Regions from separate parts of the Homo sapiens genome. Here regions 1 and 3 are each linked to region 2. Evidence: fine-mapped expression QTL. A gene starts in region 2. Each other region holds a variant in brackets. All regions are shown on one strand. Distances are between the middles of the regions. Region 1 overlaps SLC38A12 (solute carrier family 38 member 12). Region 2 holds the start of GRIN2C (glutamate ionotropic receptor NMDA type subunit 2C). Region 3 overlaps MYO15B (myosin XVB).

Region 1 (8,259 bases), 47 kb after region 2:
TGACATTATAAATTAGCTGGCTCCTGAGCAATTTTCCAACCCCCAAATGCCATTGATCAGTTCAAACTCAGTCTCTGCTCAAGGACTCTTGTAGCCCAACTCATTACAGGAGGCAGAGACACGAGTCGCTGCAGCCAAGCACATTTCTAAAAAAAAACAAAAAAAAACGAAAAAAGAAAACTCTGATTTCTAATAACATCTTCAAACTGGTCATGGGGAATAAAGTCCGGGACGGACCCAGGAGAGTACAAATGGGTCTGTTCAGATCCTCTTTCTTTTTGGGTCAGTGAGTTTAGATAACACCAGGGGCCCCACAGCAGCCTTGCTGAAGTCTTGATGGAGACAAGGAGGCTAACATTCCCAGGGCACTGCAGGCAATGCTCAGCCACAGCTCTTTTAGAACGTTCTGCAGTCTACAGCTCAACAGGGCTGCCTGTCCTCCTGTGTCCCTTACATGCGCTGCCCACCTCCAGTTGCCCAGGCTCCAGACTTCCAGCAATCTCTGACTCTTTCCTTGCTCTCTACATGAGGTTCCTGGGGCTGCTATCACAGATGACCACAAACTGGGGGGCTTCAAACCACAGATGTGTGTTCTCTCCCAGGCCAGAAGTGCCCTCTTGCAAGGCAAGGCTCCCAATAGCACCCCCAACAGGACAGAGCCCAGTCCTACGCATGCATTAAGGATGGGGCTGACAGGGAGGAGCCGTTTCTCTAGATGCCACCAGAAATGAGATTTAAGCACAGTAGGGAGTAAAGAGAGTGCCTAATCTCAAGCCCAGCCTTCTGTCCTCTGGACAGGAAGGAAATCTACTCTTCAGAATCAGTGACTCGAAGATGTGGGGAAGGGACCCTGCAGCCTCACGGGGGCCTGTTGTGGGCTGTGCCTGGAGATTTCCTGGACAGGACGTGGCTTTGCTGAGGACCCGGAAGTACTGACACTTGTGCCTGTTTGAGCAGCCTGGCATCTGGGTACCAAGGGCTCAGTCACTAACTGGAGCCTCCACTTTCCTCTTGGAGTGGTTTGGAACAGACTGAAGAGTCAGCTGCCCAGCCATGGAATGGGAGAAACAAATGCTGTGCTACTTCCGAGAATGGATCTTTAAACCAAGAACGCTCAACTCACGCCTGCTGAGGCTGTGCCGTGTCCACCACCTGCCTCCCTCCTCTCCAGTTCTAACCCTACAGCACATGGCACTTACAGAAGAAAGGCTCCGACTCTGCGTGCTTCTGTGTCATATGCAAAAGGAGCCCAGGACTGGCAATGTGTTATGTCCTTTAACCGCACCACGGAGCGTGTGAGTGAGGGCGTCAACATTAGAGCACAAAAGTAAAGCGGGTAGATACTTATCTCCCCATCCCCAAATTTCTCTGCACATTTAGCTGGTCAGAGAAACAAAATGAAATTTTAAACTTGGTGCCAATCTCAAATTAAATACCCTGTTTAACACCTTGTACAGTCTCCGGGTCCCACCCTCTGCCTGCAGATCTGTCACAGCCAATCCCAAGGCCGCATTGTCCCAGCCACTGGTCCTTTGATCCGCCCTGCCCTGTGCTATCAAAACTGCCCTGTGATAACATCACTGCCCAAGCTGCAGCCCCTCCACACTCTGCCAAGCGCTAACACACATGGTTTCATTTCATGCTCATGGCCCGCTGCAAGGTCACTGGTGCAGGTGACGATGCCCTCATCTTACTGATGAGGAAACTGGGGGGCTGGAGAGGTTCAGTGACACAGCCAGAAAGCGGCAGAGGGAGAAGGTCCCCCTCTCTGACACCCCGTCCTCAAATTTTCAACCTCATGCCTTCACCCTCCTGCTGGCAAAGAATCTTCCCCTGTGACCTTCTGAGCCCTGCTCAAGTGCCAATCTCCTCTACAAGTTATTTTAATCCTCCCTGGGGGCTCTTGACTGAATTACCAACACACAGTTGATACCACCTGACTTCATTCCAGTAGGCTCTGAACCGCTGCTTTCTCTTGGGTTGATTTTGTGTCCCCAGCAGAGTGTAACCCCCTTGAGGGCAAGGACTGCATCCTTGTTTGTCGCAGCACCTAGGAAGGCTCTCAAACGTGGGATGCTCACAAAAGCTTTGTAGGATGCACTGCATTTGGTGGGGGGAGTGCCTGCTAGAGTGGGTGAAGGGGCAGCCCCAGTCTTGCCAACCTGCCTTGTACACGTTTTCCATGCCTCCTGCGGGGGGCAGTGCCTGACTTGGCAAAGCCAGCAGCATGTGGGCAAGAGTCACCTGCTCTGCCTAAAAACAGCACATAGTCAGGGAATAACTCTTCCCAACGCAGCTGAGGAATTGACATGTTATGATTTTAGGAAACACACATCAAATCAAAACAGCATGGCTCTGAGTTTACCCACTGGCTTCAGGGAGAATGATATTCCTCCCTCCATGAAGAAGAGAGTGCACCCGGGAAGAGCCTGGGGTGCCCGACTCCCCACTATCACCAGCATCTCCAAGATCCCCACAGGAAGGGGGCCTGGGGTGCCCGGCTCCCCACCATCATCGGCATCTCCAAGATCCCCACAGGAAGGGGGCCTGGGGTGCCTGGCTCCCCAGCATCTCCAAGATCCCCACAGGAAGGGGGCCTGGGATGCCCGGCTTCCCGCCATCACCAGCATCTCCAAGGTCCCCACAAAGAAGGGGATCAGACTCTGGTGAACTGTGACCACTCTCAGTCTGCTTGGCTCCCAGAGGGGTGGTGTCTTAGAAGACATCTTCACCTAAAGTGAAGAAGCTCAAGGTCTTGAAAGGAGTGATCCTTTTCATCCCTACTTTCTGGAGACAGTGGAGTCAGTGTCCCTAATAGTCACCCACCGCCACCCACCAAAATGCTTACAAGACAAAACTAAAAACCCAAGTGCTGCTGGTCGTCATCCTTCCTCTGGCTGGAAGGAGACGGAGCGGACTGCAGCTTCCAACTGGAACTAAGACTTTGATGAAATTCAACAACACTCATAGTTCCATCTCAGTTCCCTCAAAAAAGGGGAAGGAAGACAGAGGGGCTACTTCCCTGGTAGAAAGGGGAGACAGGAGGCCAGGCATGGTGGCTCACACCTGTAATCCCAGCACTTTGGGAGGCCAAGGCGGGCAGATCACCTGAGGTCAGGAGTTCAAGACTAGCCTGGCCAACATGGCAAAACCCCGTCTCTACTAAAAATACAAAAATTAGCCAGGCGTGGTGGCGGGTGCCTGTAATCCCAGCTACTGAGGAGGCTGAGGCAGGAGAACGGCTTGAACCCGGGAGGCAGAGGTTGTAGTGAGGTTGTGGTAAGCTGAGATTGCGCCATTGCATTCCAGCCTGGGTGACAGAGCGAGACCCTGTCTCAAAAAAACAAAACAAAACAAAACAAAAAACCCACAAGAAAGGGGAGACAGGAGAATGAGGGGCTGAAGTGAGGGCTGCAACAAAGGACAAGTCCTAAGAACTTTCTGTGCAACTCCACGCCAAAACTAACCCATGGGACAAAGAGTGACACACAATTACCCTTTGCACCAAGTGACAGAGAAAACACTTGGAAGGGCAGCTGTCAGCTGACTGGTGATGCCCAGGGGAGGGTCCCTCCCAGCCCTGCCTCCTGACTGAGACTTGAAAAGCGGGCAATGTCCCATGGAGACAAATGCCAGTGGCCAAAGCGGCCAGCAGTGACCAGGGAAGCACGCAGGCGACGCTTTTGTTCTCATCCTGGAGTGGCAAGAAGGCTTGGAACTGAAGTGGGGCGGGGCAGGGGAGTGACACTGTGACCCGCTGGCTCCCATGAACACTACTGAGGCAGTGGACTGGTTGGTTACTATGTGGGCAGTTCTCTAAGTGTGTGCTTATTTCTTTCCCTCTAAAAATATGAAGCTTTTTTGGTTTTGGCTTCCACGCTGTAGTGAGATGGAGTTTCTAGAGCCAAGAATTCAGGCACCAGCAGCCTTCTCTTCACTCCAGCTGTCAGCTCCCGGAGTTTCAACACGGGAGGCCAGCAGGTCCACTCTGAGCCTTCTCACTCCAGGGCTGGGGGCTGATGGGGATTTCTCTGTTAAGGTAGCAGGGGTGACAGAGGCACTTCTCGTACAGCAGCAAGCCTTGAAAGGTTGAATAGGGCTACCTTAAACGCACAGAGACCTGTGGGAGCTGACCACGGAGCACTCGGGCTTGGAGTGAGGAGGGCGCAGGGGGGCTCATCTGGGTGGAGGCGGAGCGCACAAATCGCACAGCCGAGCTCCCTGATCCTGGAGGTTATTTCAAGCGATAAAAGAAAGGATCCCCCAGACTCCAGGGCTGCTCTTGGTGGGCACAAGGGGTTAAGAGTTAATTGGGGTTAATGGCAACTCAGCATGAGCCCGTCCCTAAATGGGAAGTGAACTTTCAACACGTCCTTGAAGTGTAGTGAAGAAACGTTCAAGGATTCTATTTTTATTTCTCAAGTGGCTGTGAACGTTTTGGTTTGGAAGTTTTTATTTTCTCAACTTGAATTACAGTATCTGGGGATTCACCCACACGAAGGTGAGTTCTGAGGCAGTGTGGGTCAGCTGAAGGACCACAGGCTTCAGGGTCACGTGGCTAGGGCAGGATTTGCATCCTGATGTCCCTTCTAACTGCGAGAGCTTTCAAGTTCCTGAACCCCTCAAAGCATGCTGCGTGTGCACAGAAGACACTCAACAGACATGAGCGTGGCTTCCTGACCCCCTGTGTCAGCACACACCAAGTCATCACTCCTGTCCAAACATCTCGGTGGGGGAACGCAGCACTCCTGAAGCCAAGCAAGGAGCTCCAACCAAAGAATGTTAAGTCAATGCTATTTTTTTTTTTTTGAGGCACTGTCACCCAGGCTGGAGTGCAGTGGTGCGATCATAGCTCACTGCAGCCCC[G/C]AACTCCTAGGCTCAAGCGATCTGCCCGCCTAAGCCTCCTGAGTAGCTACGACTACAAATGCATGCCACCACATTCTGCTAATTAATTATTATTATTATTATTTTTTTTGCAGAGATGGGGGTCTCACTATATTGTCCAGGCTGGTCTCAAACTCCTGGCCTCAAGTGATCCTCCTGCCTTGGCCTCCCAAAGTGCTAGGATTACAGGCGTGAGCCACCATGCCTAGCCCCAATACTATTCTTTTCTTTTTTCTTTTTTTGAGATAGTCTCACTCTGCTGCCCAGGCTAAAGTGCAGTGGTGTGATCTTGGCTCGCGGCAACCTCCACCTCCCAGGCTCAAGTGATTGTCCTGCCTCAGCCTCCCAGGTAGCTGGGGCTACAGGCATATGCCACCACGCTTTGCTAATTTTTGTATTTTTAGTAGAGATGAGATTTCACCATGTTGGCCAGGCTGGTCATGAACTCCTGACCTCAAGTGATCTGCCTGCCTTGGCCTCCCAAAATGCTGGAATTACAGGCCTGAGCCACCATGCCTGGCCAGCCTGGCCCCCAGTACTATTCTACTATTCTTATTTGACTTCCATGAGGTCCACCCAAGTTCAACTATGGTCCAAATGCATTTTTTTGTTTGTTTTTTTTTGGTTTCTTCAGACAAGGTCTCGCTCTGTTGCCCAGGCTGGAGTGCAGTAGTGTGATCATGATTCACTGCAGCCTTGACCTCCCAGGCTCAAGCAATCCTCCCACCTCAGCCTCTTGAATAGCTGAGACTACAGGCGTGTGCCACCACGCCTCGCTAATTTTTGTATTTTTTGTAGAGACAGGGTCTTACCATATTGCCCAGGCTGGTTTCAAACTCCTGAGCTCAAGCAATCTGCCTTCCTTGGCCTCCCAAAGTGCTAGGATTCCAGGCGTAAGCCACGGTGCCCAGCCCCAGTACTATTCTTATTTGACTTCCATGACCTCCACTCAAGTTCAACTACAGTACAAATGCTCTTTAAGACAGTCCAAGTTCTTCCCGACCAAACACAAAGGATCATTCACCATGCGGAAGACGTCTGCCAGAGAAAGAGAGCAGGAGCCGTGTCAGAAACCATGCCGGCAGCCTGTGTGCACCAAATCCCATGAACCACTGTCACAGCTTATTTGCCAAAACTCTGTGATGAGAGGCACCATGCCATCTAGAGGAGGTCGTCCGAATTCTGCGGATGATTGCACTTTCACAAGGAACTATATAAGGATGAGCTTCCTAAAATGTTCTCGACAGGGCAGAGGGTGAGCAGCGCCCCTCCTGAAGACCAGCCCAGGAATGGGCTGACCCAGAGACTGGGAGGGGATGGGATTTGTGCCAGGACAGGCTGTCGGGTTCTAGACACCAACGCAAGCATGACAGACAGTGCCAATCTTGCCCCCACCAATTCTCAAATACTGTGTACCTGGTGCAGAGTGAGAGATGAGGACAGGCGGAGGCTGGCTGCCTCCCTCAGTGCACGTCCCTCTCTGCAGCAGTGATTAGTGTTAGCCCAACACCTGCCATAACGCACTTTTTGAACAAGTTAGCATGGCCCTTTGTCCTTGGCTCCCCCTGATCTTCCCAAACCCCTCAACTAGAAGGTCCTTGGGAGATGCCTACTGAATAGACTCCAAGTTTGAAAGATTCACATGATGACCGAAGACAGAACTGACGGTTGATGCCTAGATGACTCTAAAGAAGTGGGTGCCCCCTGTGCATTAGAGGCCAGCTCTATGCACCTTGTCACTAGGTCACCATTATCTTCAGTAAAAAACCATGGCTGCTCACGCCAAGCTGGCAGCCTCGTTCTGAATGCGTGAGTGGAGAGACGGAAGATCTACAGCTCTTCTCAAAGACGGGAGGACACTGAGCCTCCAGGCAGAGGCAATCATGAGCCAAAAGTGAAGGTCCCAGCAGCGTGTTCCAAAGCGGCCACCAAGCTAGAAAGCAGAGGAAAGAAACCAAATCCTCGCAGCAGGAGCTCAGCAACCAGGGGCTGGTCGGGAGGAAAGACCCGTCCCTTCGCCCAGCTAGCGGAGATAAAGATGAACTCTGGGCACATTCTCGGTACAGGTACAGACTGGCCAACAGTGGGGCACCTGCGCTACCTCTGCTCAGATACTTGTGAAAATGTTATTCGACTCTGATGCTGGGGAACCTGGAAGAATGATTTCAGGGAGAAAGAAACCAGGGGAAAGGTGGATGGATGCTCTCTTTTATGCAACGTTGCCCCCTTGGACCTGGGGGGCCAGGGCTCTCAAGCAGCCCTGGTCCACCGCCTGCCTGAGCTATTGCAGGTCCAGAACACCACCTCCCAGGATGCGATGTTAGCCTGTGGCTGGGAAAGAGGCGGCATGAAGGGGCTGCGTGAGAGCTTCCCGCACAGAACCGAAGCAGCACCCGCTCCAGGAGTCTGGCCATCCCATGGCAGCTGTGACGCAGGCTGCATGGGACGAGAGCTGCCTGGACTCCCCTGTGCGGGCTCCGAGAAAGACAGGGAGAGCTGGACAGCACGGGAGGGACAGTCCAGAGCCACTGTGGCACCGCTCACGACTCCTGAGGAGCCTGGGGGAGGCTGCTCTGAGGCTCAGCCCTGTCAGTGAGGAGACAACCAGAGGCGTCTGGAAGGCAGTTCTTGGGTTTGCTGTTACTCCCCAAACACTGGCTGAAGGACCGTCTTTGAATGTTTGACAGCCGAAAACCTCCCCAGGTCCCTTCCTCAAACCTCTGCTTCCCCCTTTTCAAGGCAAGTGGAAACAGAGCCAAGAAAAACCCATATACTTCCTTTTCTGAACCACCTCCTCTGAATACCCCGTACCCCTACGTAAATGACATGCTCAATTTCTTAGTTAGGGACCTGAGGTTTGTAACCTATCTTTACCGGAGCTCTGGGAGGCAACAAAATGAGCATCTTCTCCCTAACCCCTTGATGGTGAAAAAGGAACGTCAGAAACTTCCTATCAGGCAGAGTGCGGCTCATAGGAGCCCGTGCGTGGGAGGCATGTGGGGGAAGGTGCCACCTGGGAGGGAACCTAATGCCATGACCCACTGGGGGCTCCTGCAGCACCGGATGCGCAGCCTGGCTTTGACCTGCCAGAAAACTGTCCATGCACTGTGGCCGCTGCAGGAGGGAGCCTGTGTCTGCCCAGAACACACGCTGTGGCCCCCAGGCAGCAAACTCCACCCACCTTTGGAACCAGGATGAGTCCACACACCTGGTAATACCCCGCCTGTTGTCTCCAAGCTTCTAGCTGGGAGCTGGTATTAAGCTCACACTGAGGGGATGCTGGTGGCAAGAGCTCAGCCCCTGAACATGACACCCTTCTCTACCTGGAGCCCTTCCCAAGCTCTCCAAGCTTCCCGAGACACCTGAGACTGATGT
Region 2 (8,225 bases):
GCCACCCGCCTGGTGTTGCCCACACTCTCCCCAACAGGGTGTCGATGAGGCCACCCGTGCAGTGCCCACGGGAGACATGGAAGACCTCCCTTGTGGGCTGGTGCTCAGCAGCATTGGGTATAAGAGCCGCCCTGTCGACCCAAGCGTGCCCTTTGACTCCAAGCTTGGGGTCATCCCCAATGTGGAGGGCCGGGTTATGGATGTGCCAGGTGAGAGGGTGTGAGGAGGCTGGGTGCTGAATTATGGTGAGAGGCCGAGAAGCTGGTATCTCCTGGGGCCATGCGTTCATTCATCTAGCAACATGTACTGAGAAGCTTCTGCAGGGCAGGCCCTCTCTAGGACCCAGTGCCGCCCTCCTCTTGGCCCTGAGAGAAGTTCCAGTCTGGCTAGGACATATGTGACATACGTCGGGTCATTAAGTCATTCAACAAACGTTTACTGAGGTCTTTTCTGGGTTAGGCCCTGTGCTTAGTGCTGGGATTGGAGATTAATAAGGCAGCCTGTGTCCTCAGGGAGCTTCCAGTTTTACTAAGTGCCCACATACCTATCTAGTGATTAATTCACTTGGTAAACATTTACCAAGGGCCTACTGAAACTGCAGGGGAGCAAGCCTCAGCTCCTAAGCTTAGGGATCCCCTCATCTACAGGGAAACTGAGGTGTAAGGGGGTCGGCCTGGTAAAAACAGGGAGAGAAGAATCCAGGGCAGTGGACCAGCGGCCACAGCAGGCTCAGCCGACAGTCTGCCAAGAGGCGTGGGGTGTCTGTGTGCGTGCACGTGGGTGTAGATTGTGGGCACAGGATGGCCAGGGTGGTATCCAGCCACCTCCCTCCCTTCCCCTTTTGTTACCCCCTCTCAGGCCTCTACTGCAGCGGCTGGGTGAAGAGAGGACCTACAGGTGTCATAGCCACAACCATGACTGACAGCTTCCTCACCGGCCAGATGCTGCTGCAGGACCTGAAGGCTGGGTTGCTCCCCTCTGGCCCCAGGCCTGGCTACGCAGCCATCCAGGCCCTGCTCAGCAGCCGAGGTCTGGGCCCCGATGCTGAGGTCCTGGGAGGTGGGGTGGGTGGTCCTTCTCTGGGCCTCACTCTTTGGGAGGGGGCTGTTCTGGGAGGGGTGAAGGAGGAGGTGTTGACAATCTCCCCTCTGCTTCAGGGGTCCGGCCAGTCTCTTTCTCAGACTGGGAGAAGCTGGATGCCGAGGAGGTGGCCCGGGGCCAGGGCACGGGGAAGCCCAGGGAGAAGCTGGTGGATCCTCAGGAGATGCTGCGCCTCCTGGGCCACTGAGCCCAGCCCCAGCCCCGGCCCCCAGCAGGGAAGGGATGAGTGTTGGGAGGGGAAGGGCTGGGTCCGTCTGAGTGGGACTTTGCACCTCTGCTGATCCCGGCCGGCCCTGGCTTGGAGGCTTGGCTGCTCTTCCAGCGTCTCTCCTCCCTCCTGGGGAAGGTCGCCCTTGCGCGCAAGGTTTTAGCTTTCAGCAACTGAGGTAACCTTAGGGACAGGTGGAGGTGTGGGCCGATCTAACCCCTTACCCATCTCTCTACTGCTGGACTGTGGAGGGTCACCAGGTTGGGAACATGCTGGAAATAAAACAGCTGCAACCAAGAGCCATGGTTGATGGGGGACTTTTTTTGGAAGGGTTGGGGTCGGGGGTCACCTTCTGGCCGTAGCTCCCCTACCATCACCAGGTGGCGCTGCAGAGACGGCTCCCTGCTCAGGGGCCTCATTGGGGGCTTGATGGGGCTCGGCAGCCAGGCCTGGCATAGCCACCCTTCCTTTCTCCGCTCGGCCCTGCTGTGGCTGCGGGTTGCCTGTCTTCTGTCCACACTAGGGCTGCCCGGGACCGGGACCGGGACCACCCCTCCCTGGGGAGCCCTCAGTACAATCAAAACAGAAAAGAAATGGGAGCGGGGGACTGAGAAGCAGCTTGTCCCCTGTACCTCTGGGTGCCCCAGGCGAGTCTAGCCTGGGGCCCATTCTTTGGCTCTCAAAGCCTTCCTGCTTCCGTTTCCAGTCAGACACACTGGCCTTTAAAAATAGTGCCTCAGTCTCCCTAGGGCTTTGCAGTGTCCAGAGAGTGGTCACTCCCTTTTATGGCAGCCCTCAAGATGCTGCCTCGCTGTATAACCTGAGGGGTCCTCGAAATTGGCCCAAGGTCACACACTCGTGAGCTGCGGGCTCAAACCCAGGCTCCGGGCAGGCTGGTGTGTCCTCCGAGGCGCACTTGCCCCGAGTGTCAGGTCTGGGGACGCGGTTCCGGAGAGGGGAGAGGGGCCCGGGAATGCGGCGGGAGGGGCCTCGAGGGGCAGCGGGCCGGGCCGGGCCGGGGCGGAGGTGGCGGGCCCCGGCGGGGCGGGCCCTCGCGGGCGGCGGTGAGAGCTCCCGCACAGTCGGCTGCGAGCTCTGGGAGCAGGAGGCGCGGTGCGCAGCCCAGCCCGGGACGGAGCCGGGCGCCGTGCGAGCTTCGGGAGGGTCGCGGGGCGCAGGGGCGGGTCGGGGCCAGCGGACCAGGCCGCGCCACCCGCCCCCGCCCCCGCCCCGCCGCGCCCGGGCTCCGGCGCCCGCGGAGCTGAGACTGAGCGCGCCAGCCCTCCGGGGCCGAGGCTCTGGGACAGACACCGCGAGGGAGGCGGCCGGCGCGGGCTCTCGTCGCGGGCGCAGCGCCCCTTCCCCTCGGTAAGTGGCGAGCGGCGGGCGAGGGGCACCAACTTCGCCGCCAACTTGGGGCTGGGTTCCCGCGGCGCGCGAGCAAGGACGGCGGAGACAGAGGCGGGACACCCGGGGGGTTGGACCCACGCAGGACTCTCGGGGCTCAAGGAGGGGGCGGCTGGAGGACCCGGACCCTCAAGAACCTGGCCTTGGGTTTTGACCCGGGCGGCCGGAGAGAAGGCGAAGAAGAGGCCGAGCAGACAGGCGCGCGGCGGACGCGAGAGAAGGACGCGGGCGAAGCGTCCAAGACGTTCGTCCCCAGGGTCGCCGAGCCCTCCTCCTCCTTCGCTTGGCGCGGCAGCACCGCGGGACCAGGGGAGTCTGGGCTGCCGCGGACCCAAACTGTTGCTGCTGGAAGCCGCCGGGGCGGAGAGCGGGGAACAGGGCCGGGAGTGGGGGCCGGGGCTGGGATCCACCAGAGCGAGGGGTTGGAAAGGAGTCGAGAAGGTGAAAGGGGGCTGTGCGGCTCCCCAGCCCAGTGCCCCAGTTTCCCTAGGTCTGCTGGGCACCTGCTGCGCACTCGCCTCGGCGCCCAGACCCCTTCCCCCGCCGCGAGTCCCGCTTCTTCCCCTTCCAGCTCTGCCCCATCTCCTTTGCCCCAGCCTAGCTCTCTCCTTCCTGCGACCTGGGAGAATCGGAGTGGGCTTCCAGAGTAGTGGCATCTTGCAGATGCTGGCCCGTGCCCGGCTCCCGGGCTTCCAGAGCGCAAAGGGAAGGGTAGGCAGAGAGGGCACTGGGCGAGCAAGACCTGGCGCTGGGCCCTGGCTGCGCACCAGCCGCCTGCGCCGGTCTCTGGGGGCTTCGCCCAGGATCCCCGACGGCGGGGAGGGGAAGCCCCGAGTCTCCTGTTTCCTGCCTACGCGGGCAGGGCGGGGACACGCGGAGCAAAGGCACCCGGCAACCTGAACCCCCAGGTGCGTCCCGCGACCCTGCAAGGAGCTGCTGGGTGAGCAAGACGGGAATTCCCGCCAGGCCCTGATGCCCACCCCATTCGTCCACTCGGTTTCCCAGCCCTGGTCGTCCAAGGGGACTTCTGGCTCGGTCCCCCAGCCCTCGGATGGTGGCGTTATCTTAGTTCAGTCCCTGACCCCGGGCCACAGGAAAATCGAGGAAAGACACTTATTTGGGGAGGGTACCATTCCGCTGGCTGTATTTCAGAGCCCGTCCAGGTCTTGGCGGTGCTAGTGACTTTGAGCCTGTTTCTAAACTCCCGAAGAATAAGAGCGTGCCAGGGGCAGGTAGGCAGGTCCGGGACACCTGGGTTCGCCCAGGGCCCCCGGGCGGGCCTGGGATGGTACTGGGGCCGCCTGCCAGGCTGGCTTGGTCCCCCCACTGCGGGACTCGGGGTCACGACCCAGCTTGGGGGAGTGGGGGTGGGGGCCCCGGAGCCGCGGACGCCGGCGGGGGGCAGCGTGGGGCGGGGGGCGCCGGGTGCGTGGTGCTCAGCTTGGCCGCCAGGAGGCGTGGCGCGGGTCCCCGCCCGGAGCCGCCGCCGCCGCCGCCGCCGCCGCATCGCGAGTGTCCTTGAGCCGCGGGTGACGGTGGCTCTCGCTGCTCGCGCCCCCTCCTCCCGCGGGGGGAGCCTGATGCCACGTTCCCTATGAATTATTTATCGCCGGCCTAAAAATACCCCGAACTTCACAGCCCGAGTGTAAGAGATTGCTGCGGAGGGGAGGGGGCGGGGCGTCCCGGTGGCCAGGGGGAGTCCGGGCGGGGTCCGCGGAGACGGGGGCCGTAGCCTTGGAGGAGCAAGAACTCCGTGCCCCCAGCAGTGGGGCAAGCTAGAACGGCGGTCCTCTCCCCTGGCGCCTGGGTTCGGGTTTTGGCTGGGCAAAAGGGAGGGAGGGAAACCCGACGGCAAAGGAGGGGCGGCTCACCGGAAGGGCAGGGGGTCCGGGGGTTCTGCTGGTGGGTGGGGAGGACTCCTGCGACAGAGTTTCCTAGCCTGGGAGAGGGAGAGCCATCGGTATCTCAGATGTGAGCGGGTATGAGTGCGGGAGTGTGCATGTGTGTGCAGGTCCGTGCCAGGGGGTCTGGCTGAGCTGTGAGGACCCGGGAAGGAGAAGGCCCCCAGCCTGGGAAGGTGCTCAGACCCTTCTAGATGCTGCTGTGTCCTGCAGGACTGACCACTGCCATCCTCTCTGGGGCTCTTTGGGGATCTCTGTGTTTGTCAAACATTAGTTTAAGGGCTGTTTGTGGAAGGGGTGAGACCCTGAGTGGGTGGGTGGGCAGAGGTCTCTGAGACAATGTGTCTGCCCTCAAGGAGCCCGCAGTCCAGTGTGGGGCAGGGTGTTAATGAGTGCACACACACCTGCCGCAGGGCAGAATGGAGGGGTGGAGGGGACCACTACACAGAGCTCCCCACCCAGGAGGGGAAGCCAGGGCAGGGGGAAGAAGGGCAGGTGCCCCAGCCTGGCCGCAGTCCCTGCGCCTAGAGCCTGAGGCATCAAGGCAGGTGCCTGTGGGAGAGGGATTTCAGCTGGGCCCTGAAGGAGAGTAGACTTCTGTTGGGATGAGGACATTCCAGCCTGGGGGATGCTGGAACGAGGCCTGGAGATGAGGGCAGAATGGGGCTGTTTGGCCAGCAGACTGGCAGAGCTGTGGGTTCCAGGGATGGGAGGACGGTTGGTTGCGGTCAGGGTGCAGAGGGCTCTGTCTATGGGACTAAGCTGTCTGGACTTCATTTGTGGGCACCAGGGTGTAGCTGTCCTGTGTGAGGAGGGAGCAGTGGCTGGAGGAAGGCTTCAGCAGTGCAGTGGGGCTGGCGGGGGTGGGTAGGTGGGAGGTGGGGAGGGGGAGGCAAGGGAGGAGATTGTGGCGGGGGAAAGTGGAGTTTGTCCCTCCTACCTCTGTAGGGTGGCTGGGTTAGACGGGGTGATGAGACAGAATTCGGAAGCTCCTTGAGTCTGCCCCTTGCTATTTGGAGCCCAGGGACTTACCTAGTTTTGGCCCCTGGCTCTGGAGGTATTCTGGGATCCCTCCCCCATTTTAGGCCCCTTGATTAGAGGTACAACCTGCCTCAACTCCCCCACCCCCCGACCCCCAACCCCCAACCCAGCAGGACACCTTCCCTTTGGAGAGAGTCTCTGGTGTCCCCAGCCCATGAGGATGTCTTCCTATTGGAGAGAGTGGGAATGAGAACATTTTCAGCTATTACCAGACCCTTATTCCTTCATGTGAATGAGCTCTAGGTCCTTGGCTAAGAAAAGGTCTTGACTGGGGAGGGTGGAAGCTTGAGGGGAGTAGGGAGTTGGAAAGAGAAATACATTTAGAAAAAGGAGGTTGGAGATGCTAATGGCAGACTGCTTATTCTGCCCCTTTGCAGTTGAGGGAGAGCCTGGGCCCTTCATCCAGGGTCACACTGTCCAAAGAAATAAAATGGGAGCCACAAGTACAATTTAAAATTTTCTAGTAACCACATTAAAACAAATAGAAACAGGTGACGTTAATTTTAATAGTATATTTTCTTTGACTAAACATACCCCAAATGTTATTATTTCAACATGTAATCAAGATACAAGTGTTTACGAGATTTTTTACATTCTTTTTCCCTGTTGTCTTCAATGTGCAGTGTGGCATGAAATTTTACACTGATAGCAAACTCCGTTTGGGTGAGAGATGTTTCTGGTACCCAATAGTCGTGTATGACTGGCGGCTCCTATACTGGGCAGCACAGATCTAGAGCTCATTACTGGGAGGCAGGGGTAGTAGGAGGTTTGGGGCTCCCCAGAGGGCAAGGAACCTCTAGGACCTGGAGGTGTGGGCAGAGGTGAGCAGACAGAGGCCGTGCAAGGGGAGCGACAAGCATGTCAGTGTCCTTTGTGGTTGAGATCTGACATCCCTGATTGGTGGTGGCAGCTGAGGCATGGCATGGCATGGCTAGGATCGATCCCTTGCCAGACTCAAACATGTCTCTGGGCTGTCAGTTCTGTCACTTCTGTCACTTCTGTGTCACTGTACTAGGGAACCGTACACATGGGAAGATTTCAAGGGCGCCACCATGAGAGCAATATTCCCTTCCTTGCCAAAACTCTTGTCTTCTTGGCCTGAAATTCTACCACCTGGCACTTTAGCTTAAGGCTCTGATTGTGGTTAAACTACATCTCTCTTGGGAATGAGAACCCTTTCAGCTATGATCAGTCCCTCATACCTTCCTGTGAATGAGCTCTAGATGCTTAGCTAAGAGAAGATCTTGACGGGGAGGCTGGGGAGTTTGAGGGAAGTAGGGAGAGAAGGTTGGAAAGAGAAATATATTTAGAAAAAAGGAGGTTGGAGGTGCTAACAGCAGCATGCTCATTCTGCAGATTTGACTCTAAGTTCCTGGAGGGCAGGGACCATGTCTCACCCATAGGGACATTCCACCATCCAGCGCCTGCTGCAGGGAAGGGGCTCAGCACACACGGGCCAATTGATGTTTCTACACTAAAGTTGGTTTAGTGGGTTCCCTGGAGGGATCCTTTCAGTGCCACCCTGGGGAGAAGAGGAACTTTCCTGAATGTTCCTGGTAGCCTCTTGCACTTCCCCGCTCTCTGGATTCCTTAGAGAGAACTAGAGATACAAGAAGGCCCATATGTCTGTAAGACATTAGGCTTTGGATTAAAAAAAAAGAGAGAGATAGCTGGGTGTGGTGGCTGACGCCTGTAATCCCAGCACTTTGGGAGGCCGAGGTGGGCAGATCATGAGGTCAGGAGATCGAGACCATCCTGGCTAACACGGTGAAACCCTATCTGTACTAAAAAATACAAAAAATTAGCCGGGCATGGTGGTGGGCGCCTGTAGTCCCAGCTACTTGGGAGGCCGAGGCAGGAGGATGGCATGAACCCGGGAGGTGGAGCTTGCAGTGAGCCGAGATCGCACCACTGCACTCCAGTCTGGGTGACAGAGCAAGACTCTGTCTCAAAAAAAAAAAAAAAGAGAGAGAGAGAAATTTGGTGGCAGGCAAAAGGAAGGCCCTGTGAGAAAGCTGGAGCCTGCCCAGCAGTTGTCTCGGGCCCCATCCCTGAAGGGCATCTGTCTTTCGGAGGCGTGGTTTCTGGCAACTGCTTGATTTTCGTGAGCATTTCTGTAGCAGAGATGTGCAGATCCTGGGGGAGGCGGGAGGGCTGGAGTGGCAGGCTCACCCTGTCCACCCTTTAGCTCTTCCCTGCTCAGAAGTTTTGCTGGGGATGTGATGAAGATGGGAGAGATGGCAGTGCCATGGCCGATGGCCAGCTGGGAGGGAGAGTGACATCCGTGGGCACCACTCCACTCAGGCTTTGTGTTACCCTCACTGCTGTGGCTCTTGGTCCCAATCCAAAATAATGACATTTAGCAAGGATACGTGTCAGGCCCCTGGGTTGGGTTCAAAAGATCCTGCACGCCAGTGATGGCCCGAGAGGCCAGCTCACCAGCTCATGTGTAACAAGACCAAACCCCAGCTCACCAGCTTGGGTTTTCCGGTACCCCTGAGCTCTGAACAAGTCAGTGCTGTTGCACCCTGCTGCGGAAGAGCTGCTACTAGCTGAGGCCACAGAAG
Region 3 (8,000 bases), 740 kb before region 2:
CCCATCCCTACTGCCTGCCTTTTGCTCAGTCCCCCAACCAGGCCATCCCCATTGCCAAGGCCATCACAGGCTAAGGAGGTCCACAGAGCCCTGGGGTGAGGCTGCTGCTCCTAGTAGCTGCCCCCTCCCTTCTGAGGCAGCCACCAGCCCAGCTCAGCTGGACATCAACGAGAAGTGACTCCACCTGCTCCCTCTGTCCCTGTGCTTGGGGTAAACTCCAGCCCTTCAGAGGATTCCCAAGATGCCATCCAGTCAATAGCCAAAGGCCAGATAGGCAAACAACAAAACGGACAATGCCACCAGCTTTTCTTGGAGGTTTCTGAACTCTGGGAACAGAGCTGCCTCTGGGGTTCCTGGCAGCTCCATGTGCCACCCCGCCCCTCCCCGCCCCTCCTGCCCTTCTGAGAGGCTCTTTTCTCACTCCGTCCCCCCTGCCATCTCACTGCTTCAGCCTGCACTCCCTGGACAGCTGCTGTGGGCACTAGACCGTGAGCCCCGCCTAGGGCAGGTACTGCTCCCACCTCATCTCTGGTGCCCAGGCATCAGCACAGGAGAGGTTTGCAGAGAGGAGAAGAAATGACGAATGCGTGGAGGGATGGTGAATGGTAGAAGAGAGTGAGATGGAGAGAGAAAGAGAGAGAGAGAGAGGATGAGAGGACGAGGAGAGAGAGGGAGGGTTGGGTGCTAGGCCCAGTCCTGGGCAGAGTGAGTCCATCTCCAATCAGAAGGACCCCCGGGGCTGCCAGTCACTCCCGGTGGCCTCCTTGTCAGTCCTGCCCCGAGGTGCTGGGCCCCACCTGGCCAGGAAGGCCTCAAAGGGCACACGCACGGGGAAGTTGGCACTGCGGGTGCCCACGGCCTCCAGTATGGCTGCCTGGTGCAGTTGCTCTGTCACATGTCCCACGTCAAAGAGGCCTGGAAGCTGTGGCCACAAGACAGAGCCAAAGACAGCTGGAGTCAAGGGGCCTAGAGCTGTGGGGAGGGAGGTGCAGGGAGGGGGAGGGCCCTGAGGCCAGTTGCTGGGGAGCTCACCTTTCCAGGGTTAGGGGTGAGGCACTGGATGAAATAGACATGGCTCCTGATGAGGGAAAGAGGGGTCACTCGGGCACAGACTGGAGCCCCATACAACTCCCTGGGGTCTGGTGTGGCGGGCGCTGTTCTTACCTGCCCAGCCGGGCTATGAGGTCCTCCAGGGCCTGCTGGAAGCGAGAGGCCAGCGTGGGTCTGCCTCGCCCTCCCCTGGACTGGGGCTCTGCCTCCTGGAACAGGCTGCCCACCAGCTGTGGGGGTGAAGGGCTGAGTCAGCTGGCCGCTGGGGCGTGCCCATCCACCCTGCAGCCCGGGAGAGCCAGAATGGACCAGCCCTCGGCATCCAGACCCTGGCAAGCTCAGCCCATGGCCCAAGGTGCCAGGGACTTGAGGGCCAACCCTTGGGCAAGAGCGCCCAGGGGGAAAAGGACAGAATTGGGGGACAGAGTATGGAGCGGGTGGGGGCCTGGAAGGGCAGATGGGCACCTGGAGCTGGCTCTGGCCAAGCATCTCCACCACAGCAGGGTCCAGCTGATCCCGGTTTCTGTTTAAAAACTTGTGAACCTGCAAGAGACCATGCAGGTGGGGAGGGAAGTGGAGAAAGGGAGGAGAACAGGAACCAAGGAGGGGAGGCTGGATATGGAGGAGAAGAATCTACCCTCTCCCCAGGTGACCTGAAAGGCTGCCTTGGTGTTTCCAGCCCTTTACCTAGCCTTGGGTCTGCCACTGGACTTTCCATTCCACCCCATGGACAGGTCCAGTCCCCAGCAAGACCACACTCTCCCCACTGGGGCTTTAACCTATGCTAGTCAATAGGTTGACTAGACAAGAATGTTGTCTGTCTCTCCATATTAAATCTATTTTGATTTACATTTTCCTAGCTTTCTTGAACTCCTTGTATTTCTTTTTTGGGGGCAACTCCTGGGTAGTTTGTAGTTTTTCTTCTCCAAGCAAAGTGTGCCATCTCCTCCAGGGAGAACTGATTCTCCCTACTGCCCTTCCCTTTATTCCAGCCCCCGCTCCCCCACCCCCAGTTCCTCTCCTCCTGGGGTAGGCACGCGTGCAGCTTCTTGGTAGGCATAGAACTCGGAAGGGGGAAGGGAAGTCCATTCAGTGAGCACCTACTATGTGCCAGGCACCTGCCAGGCCATCTCCACGTTACTACATCTCACCCTCACAGCAACGCCAGAGCTTAGGTCTCCATACCCATTTTACAGGTGAGGAAACGGAGGCTCAGAAGGCGAAGTAAACTGCCAAGGTCATCAGGTCCCATGCTTGTGCTCTGCCCACTTGTCTGGAGGGTCCCAAGGCTTCCACTCCCTGACCCCATAATTGTCACCTAGAACTCAGTAAACCGTGCTCAGAACTGGGCAGGGCCCATGGCTCAGGTAGGGACAGGTGTCCAAGCCTTGCAAGGGGCCTCCCCACACCCACTCCTCTCCGCTGTCGGGTGACTCAGCTTGGGAGGGGACACTGCCCTCGCTGATTCACCCTGGTCTGTCCCTGAGGCCAGGTACCTGGTAGGTGACAGTCCCTGCATAATGTCGCACGGTGAACACGGGCAGGGGCAGCCGGGGCTTGGCATAGCTGGGGTGGTCACCATGGTGATAGTGGCTCTTCTGGAGGAAGGTGTGGTCCGTGGCCTAGGAGAGGAGCCATGAGCTCCCTTCACGCCTCTGCACAGGCTGTCCTTCTGGATGGCGCCCTCTCCCGGTGAGCACGAGTACTGCCTACACTGACTATAAGGGTAGGTTTGGCTTTGTTCCCCAAAACAAGCGCTTTGGGAGGCCGAGGTGGTCGGATCGTTTGAGGATAGGAGTTCGAGATCAGCCTGGGCAACCTAGTGAGATCCCATCTCTACAAAAAATTTAAAAATTGGGCTGGGCGCGGTGGCTCACGCATGTAATCTCAGCACTTTGGGAGGCCGAGACAGGCAGATCACAAGGTCAGGAGTTCGAGACCAGCCTGGCCAACATAGTGAAATCCCAACTCTACTAAAAATACAAAAAATTAGCTGGGCGTGGTGGCAGGTGCCTGTAATCTCAGCTACTCAGGAGGCTGAGGCAGGAGAATCACTTGAACCCAGGAGGCGGAGGTTGCAGTGAGCCACGATGGCACCATTGCACTACAGCCTGGGTGACAGTGCGAGACTCCATCTCAAAAAAAAAAAAAAAAATTAAAAATTAGCTGGGTGGGGCTAGGCGCAGTGGCTCATGCCTGTAACCGCAGCGCTTTGAGGCCAAGGCAGGTGGATCACCTGAGGTCAGGAGTTCAAGACCAGCCTGGCCAACATAGTGAAACCCTGTCTCTACTAAAAATACAAAAAAATTAGCTGGGCATGGTGACTCATGCCTGTAATCCCAGCTACTCAGGAAGCTGAAGCAGGAGAATCATTTGAACCTGGGAGGTGGAGGTTGCAGTGAGCCGAGACCGCACCATTGCACTCCAGCCTGGGCAACAAGAACCAAACTCCGTCTCAAAAAAAAAAAAAAAGAAAAGAAAAAAGTAACATTAGCTGGGTGGAAGGACTGATTGAGACTGGGAGCTTGAGGCTGCAGTAAGCTATGATGGTGTCACTGCACTCCAGCCTGCGTGAGAGAGTGAGACCCCATTTCTAAAATAAGTAAGTACTTAAACAAAAAAAAAAAAAGAAATGGGGATGGGGCACTTTAGTACAGATTTAGCAATCATTCCTGGGAGAATGGTCCCACAATCACATGTGCTTTTAAACA[G/C]GTCTTTCAAAGATCACTCTTAGGCCGGACGCGGTGGCTCACGCCTGTAATCCCAGCACTTTGGGAGGCCGAAGCAGGTGGATCACGAGGTCAGGAGATCGAGACCATCCTGGCTAACATGGTGAAACCCCGTCTTTACTAAAAAATACAAAAAATTAGCCGGGCATGGTGGCGGGCACCTGCGGTCCCAGCTACTCGGGAGGCTGAGGCAGGAGAATGGCGTGAACCCGAGAGGCGGAGTTTGCAGCAGTGAGCTGAGATCACGCCACTGCACTCCAGCCTGGGCGACAGAGCAAGGCTCTGTCTCAAAAAAAAAAAAGAAAAAAGAAAAAAAAAGAAATAGAGATGAGGAGCTTTAGTACAGATTTAGCAACCATTCCTGGGAGAATAGTCCCAGAATCACATGCGCTTGTATTTATTTATTTCATTATTATTATTATTATTATTATTATTTTGAGACGAGTCTTGCTCTGTCACCCAGGCTGGAGTGCAGTGGCACGATCTCGGCTCACTGCAACCTCCACCTCCCGGGTTCATGCCATTCTCCTGCCTCAGCCTCCCGAGTAGCTGGGACTACAGGCACCCGCCACCACGCTCGACTCATTTTTTGTATTTTTAGTAGAGACAGGGTTTACACTGTGGTCTCGATCTCCTGACCTCGTGATCTGCCCGCCTCAGCCTCCCAAAGTTCTGGGATTACAGAGATGAGCCACCGCGCCCGGCCTACATGTGCTTTTAACCAAGTCTTTCAAAGATCACTTTCAGGCCAGGTGCGGTGGCTTGTGCCTGTAATCCCAGCACTTTGGGAGGCTGAGGTGGGTGGCTCACAAGATCAGGAGATCAACCATCCTGGCTAACATGGTGAAACCCCGTCTCTACTAAAAATACAAAAAAAAAGAAAAAAAAATTAGCCAAGCATGGTGGCGGGTGCCTGTAGTCCCAGCTACTTGGAAGGCTGAGGCAGTAGAATGGCGTCAACCCGCGAGGCGGAGCTTGCAGTGGGCCAAGATCACGCCACTGCACTCCAACCTGGGCAACAGCGAGACTCTGTCTCAAAAAAAAAAAAAAATCACTTTCAAAAAGTAACTCAGTTGGGAATGATAGTAGGAGTCAGTTAAAACACACATACACAAACACACACAGTAACTCAAGGACAGGTGCAGTAGCTCACACCTGTAATCCCAGCACTTTGAGAGGCAACGGTGGGAGGATTGCTTGAGCCCAGGAGGTTGAGACCAGCCTGGGCAACATAGGGAGACCCCATCTCTATTTTTTAAAATATAAAAATAAAACTAAAAAGTAATTTAGTTGGACGTTATTTTACTGAGCTAATGAACATAAAATAGCAAGTGCATGGGGGAACTTGCCTATATTATGTAAATGAGAACTTGGGTTTGGGGTAACAATTCCAGGCTCAGCACCCACCTCGGACTCAGAAAATGGTACATGTCACATAACATAGACCTAAGTGATATTGCTGAGCCCTGGAAATCCATGCTGGGGGATTCCAAAAGTGATCTTGGGACCTCAAAGACACTCGTGACAAGTTTTAACAAAACATTATGAAATGTGAACTGGGAGAAACAATCGTTTAGAAATTAACACTCTCTTAATTATCTAGTACAAGACTTTACATACGTATAAGTATTAATAAATGAACATTATATATCATATATTAATGTGACTTGTTATATATCAATATATAGTACATGAAGACATGTATTGCATTAATATGACAGTGATCAACGAACTATTACAATAACATTTGATGATTTTACCATTGTTTTTCACCTTTCATTTTCTTTTTTTTTTTTTTTTTTTGAGATGGAGTCTCGCTCTGTCGCCCAGGCTCACGCCATTCTCCTGCCTCAGCCTCCCCAGTAGCTGGGACTACAGGCGCCCACTATCACGCCCGGCTAATTTTTTGTATTTTTAGTAGAGACCGGGTTTCACCATGTTAGCCAGGATGGTCTCGATCTGCTGACCTCGAGATCTGTCCACCTTGGCCTCCCAAAGTGCTGGGATTACAGGCGTGAGCCACCGCGCCTGGCCCATTTTCTTTTCTTTTCTTTTCTTTTTTTTGAGACGGAGTCTTGCTCTGTCCCCAGGCTGGAGTGTAGTGGCACGATCTCGGCTCACTGCAACCTCCGCCTCCTGGGTTCAAGCGATTCTCCTGCCTCAGCCTCCCATGCCTGGCTCACCTTTCATTCTCAACCACTAATTGGGAAAATGGGGGAGGGTTGCCCCATATTCAGGATCACGTTATATTGAGCTTCCACAGAAACTCCTGCTCCACATTCCAGCCTCAGCTCCTAGAGGCTCATGACGCCCCCCAACTCTCCCTGCCCCACACGCCCACCCACGGAGCCGCACAGGGGTGATTTTGTATTTGGCTCTGCGTTTTTGGTTTGTTTTTTTATAATTAATTAGTTTGAAACAACTTCTCACTCTGTCACCCAGGCTGGAGTGCAGTGGCATGATCATGGCTCACTGCATCCTTGACGTCCTGGGCTCAAGCAATCCATCCACCTCAGCCTCCCAAGTAGCTCTAACTATAGGCTCACACCACCACACCAGGCTAATTGTTGTATTTTCTGTAGAGACAGGGTTTTTTCATGTTGGTCTCGAGCTCCTGGGCTCAAGGGATCCACCCACCTTGGCCTCCCAAAGTTCTGGGATTACAGGCGTGAGCCACTGAGCTTGGCCAAGGCCTGTTTTTTTAAATGAACATTTCTCTCCTGCTGCACTGCGGGCTGTAAGAGGGGAGAGACTGGGTCTAATTTTGTTCACCTTTTATCCTTAGCACAGTTCCTGGCACAGTTATTCATTCATTCATTATTTCCTTAACACGTGCTGCAGATAGAGCTCAAACCCTTCACACGGGCACCCGCCCTTGTGGAGCCCAGTCTGGCGCGGTAAGGAGTCAGTGAATGAATAGACGCTGTGACTGCATGTGGACGCGCGCTGAAACGGGAAACAGGGACGAGGCTGCTATTTAAGTCTGAGCAGGCAGGAGGCAGTCAGAAAGCATTTGTGGAATGGGGGACATGGTACCCTGGGGTTTGTCCCCGACCAGTCAGAGGCCTCAGTGGCCACCTAGCCACAATTGTGAGGGACCTGCAGAAGCCCTTCATGAGCCTCGTGCAGTCCCCGCCACCTTGCCCATCGGGCACTACTGTCCCCCTTCTGTGGCAGGTACGTGAGGAACCTCAGAGGCCAGATGTCATGCTCAAGATCACCCCGAGACAAGATGTGAACCCAGCTCTGCGGGAGCCCAGGGTTCTTCCCCTTCGCTGCTGCTGTCCCAGGCTGTGCTGAGGAACTGTGATCAGGGTCGCTGGATCCCATAACCTTGTCCCCTCTGGGAGGCTCTGCCAGCTACAGCCTGGACACCCAGGGCCTCCACTCCTTCCCGACACTGGGTGGGGGGTCACCATCCTGGCCCTTACCTGGGACAGCCATGTCTGGGCGTCCAGGATACTCAGGAGGCTGTGGGGCTGATCTACCAGGAGGTCTAGGCAGGACTCCCTCGGAGGCTGAGGGACAGGCACCCAGGACAGCAACTCCCGCCGACACTCCTCCTGGGAACAGCCGGCATTTGGCCATTTTGCAGGAGCAGGGATAACCCTCCCATCTTATAGAATAGTACATTGAGGCTCAGAAGACTGAGACACCTCATGGAAAGGGGCCTTCCAGGCAGAGCTCTCAGTTCCCAACTTTCCTTCACCAAGGATGGCCTCTGCCTGGGCAATGCCTGAGCGGCCCCTGCCACGTCCACGCCCAATCCTCTTACCTCCTCCTGGGCCAGCAGCATCTGGCTGGAGAAGAGCTGTAGGCGCTCGCTGGCGAGGTTGTTGCACAGTTGCTCCAGGCCATTCACCCGCAGGGCCTGGGGGCATGTGGCAGTGAGGTGGGCACATGGGGCTGTGCCCTCCCCCCACCCCAGAGGCTTCCTTCATTCTGGCCAGGGCGCAGGGATGAGTAATACCCAGGGCTGATGCTGTGTAGCCAACAGGGTCAAGTCTAAAGGATCCGGCACAGCACACGGGCTACCTCAGCCCTGCCCAGCCACAGGTCCCTCTAGCTGCCCACACCCCTGCCCTCTGCTGCAGCACTCCTGCGAGCCTTTGGGCCTCTTGTCACGGCCATCCTGTGGCTTGGAAGGCGACTTTCCCTACTAAATAGCAGGTTGGCTATCAGAGTCCCGCATCCTCATGCACAGGGCTCCAGGCTGCTGCC

What was found.
Region 1: its variant is fine-mapped to the expression of GRIN2C in sigmoid colon (GTEx, PIP above 0.99). The same link has a PIP of 0.9 or more in esophagus muscle and tibial nerve.
Region 3: its variant is fine-mapped to the expression of GRIN2C in esophagus muscle (GTEx, PIP 0.96).

What each region holds. Positions count from the first base shown.
Region 1 is chr17:74,808,586-74,816,844 of GRCh38, reverse strand. All of the region lies in intron 8 of SLC38A12 (solute carrier family 38 member 12), which reads right to left. Among named protein-coding and RNA genes, the nearest start is that of SLC38A12, 36 kb to the right of the region's middle. RefSeq lists an enhancer at 3,932-4,647. The variant G/C (reference allele first, on the strand shown) is at 4,867.
Region 2 is chr17:74,855,880-74,864,104 of GRCh38, reverse strand. GRIN2C (glutamate ionotropic receptor NMDA type subunit 2C) reads left to right here and starts at 4,220. Exons shown (of 13, transcript NM_000835.6): 1 at 4,220-4,361. It overlaps FDXR (ferredoxin reductase), which reads left to right. Exons shown (of 12, transcript NM_024417.5): 10 at 38-209; 11 at 859-1,029; 12 at 1,158-1,608. The coding sequence ends at 1,288. RefSeq lists an enhancer at 2,695-3,393.
Region 3 is chr17:75,596,110-75,604,109 of GRCh38, reverse strand. It overlaps MYO15B (myosin XVB), which reads right to left. Exons shown (of 64, transcript NM_001395058.1): 13 at 7,555-7,650; 14 at 7,211-7,342; 15 at 2,547-2,672; 16 at 1,516-1,593; 17 at 1,165-1,280; 18 at 1,033-1,078; 19 at 798-922. Among named protein-coding and RNA genes, the nearest start is that of MYO15B, 12 kb to the right of the region's middle. The variant G/C (reference allele first, on the strand shown) is at 3,762.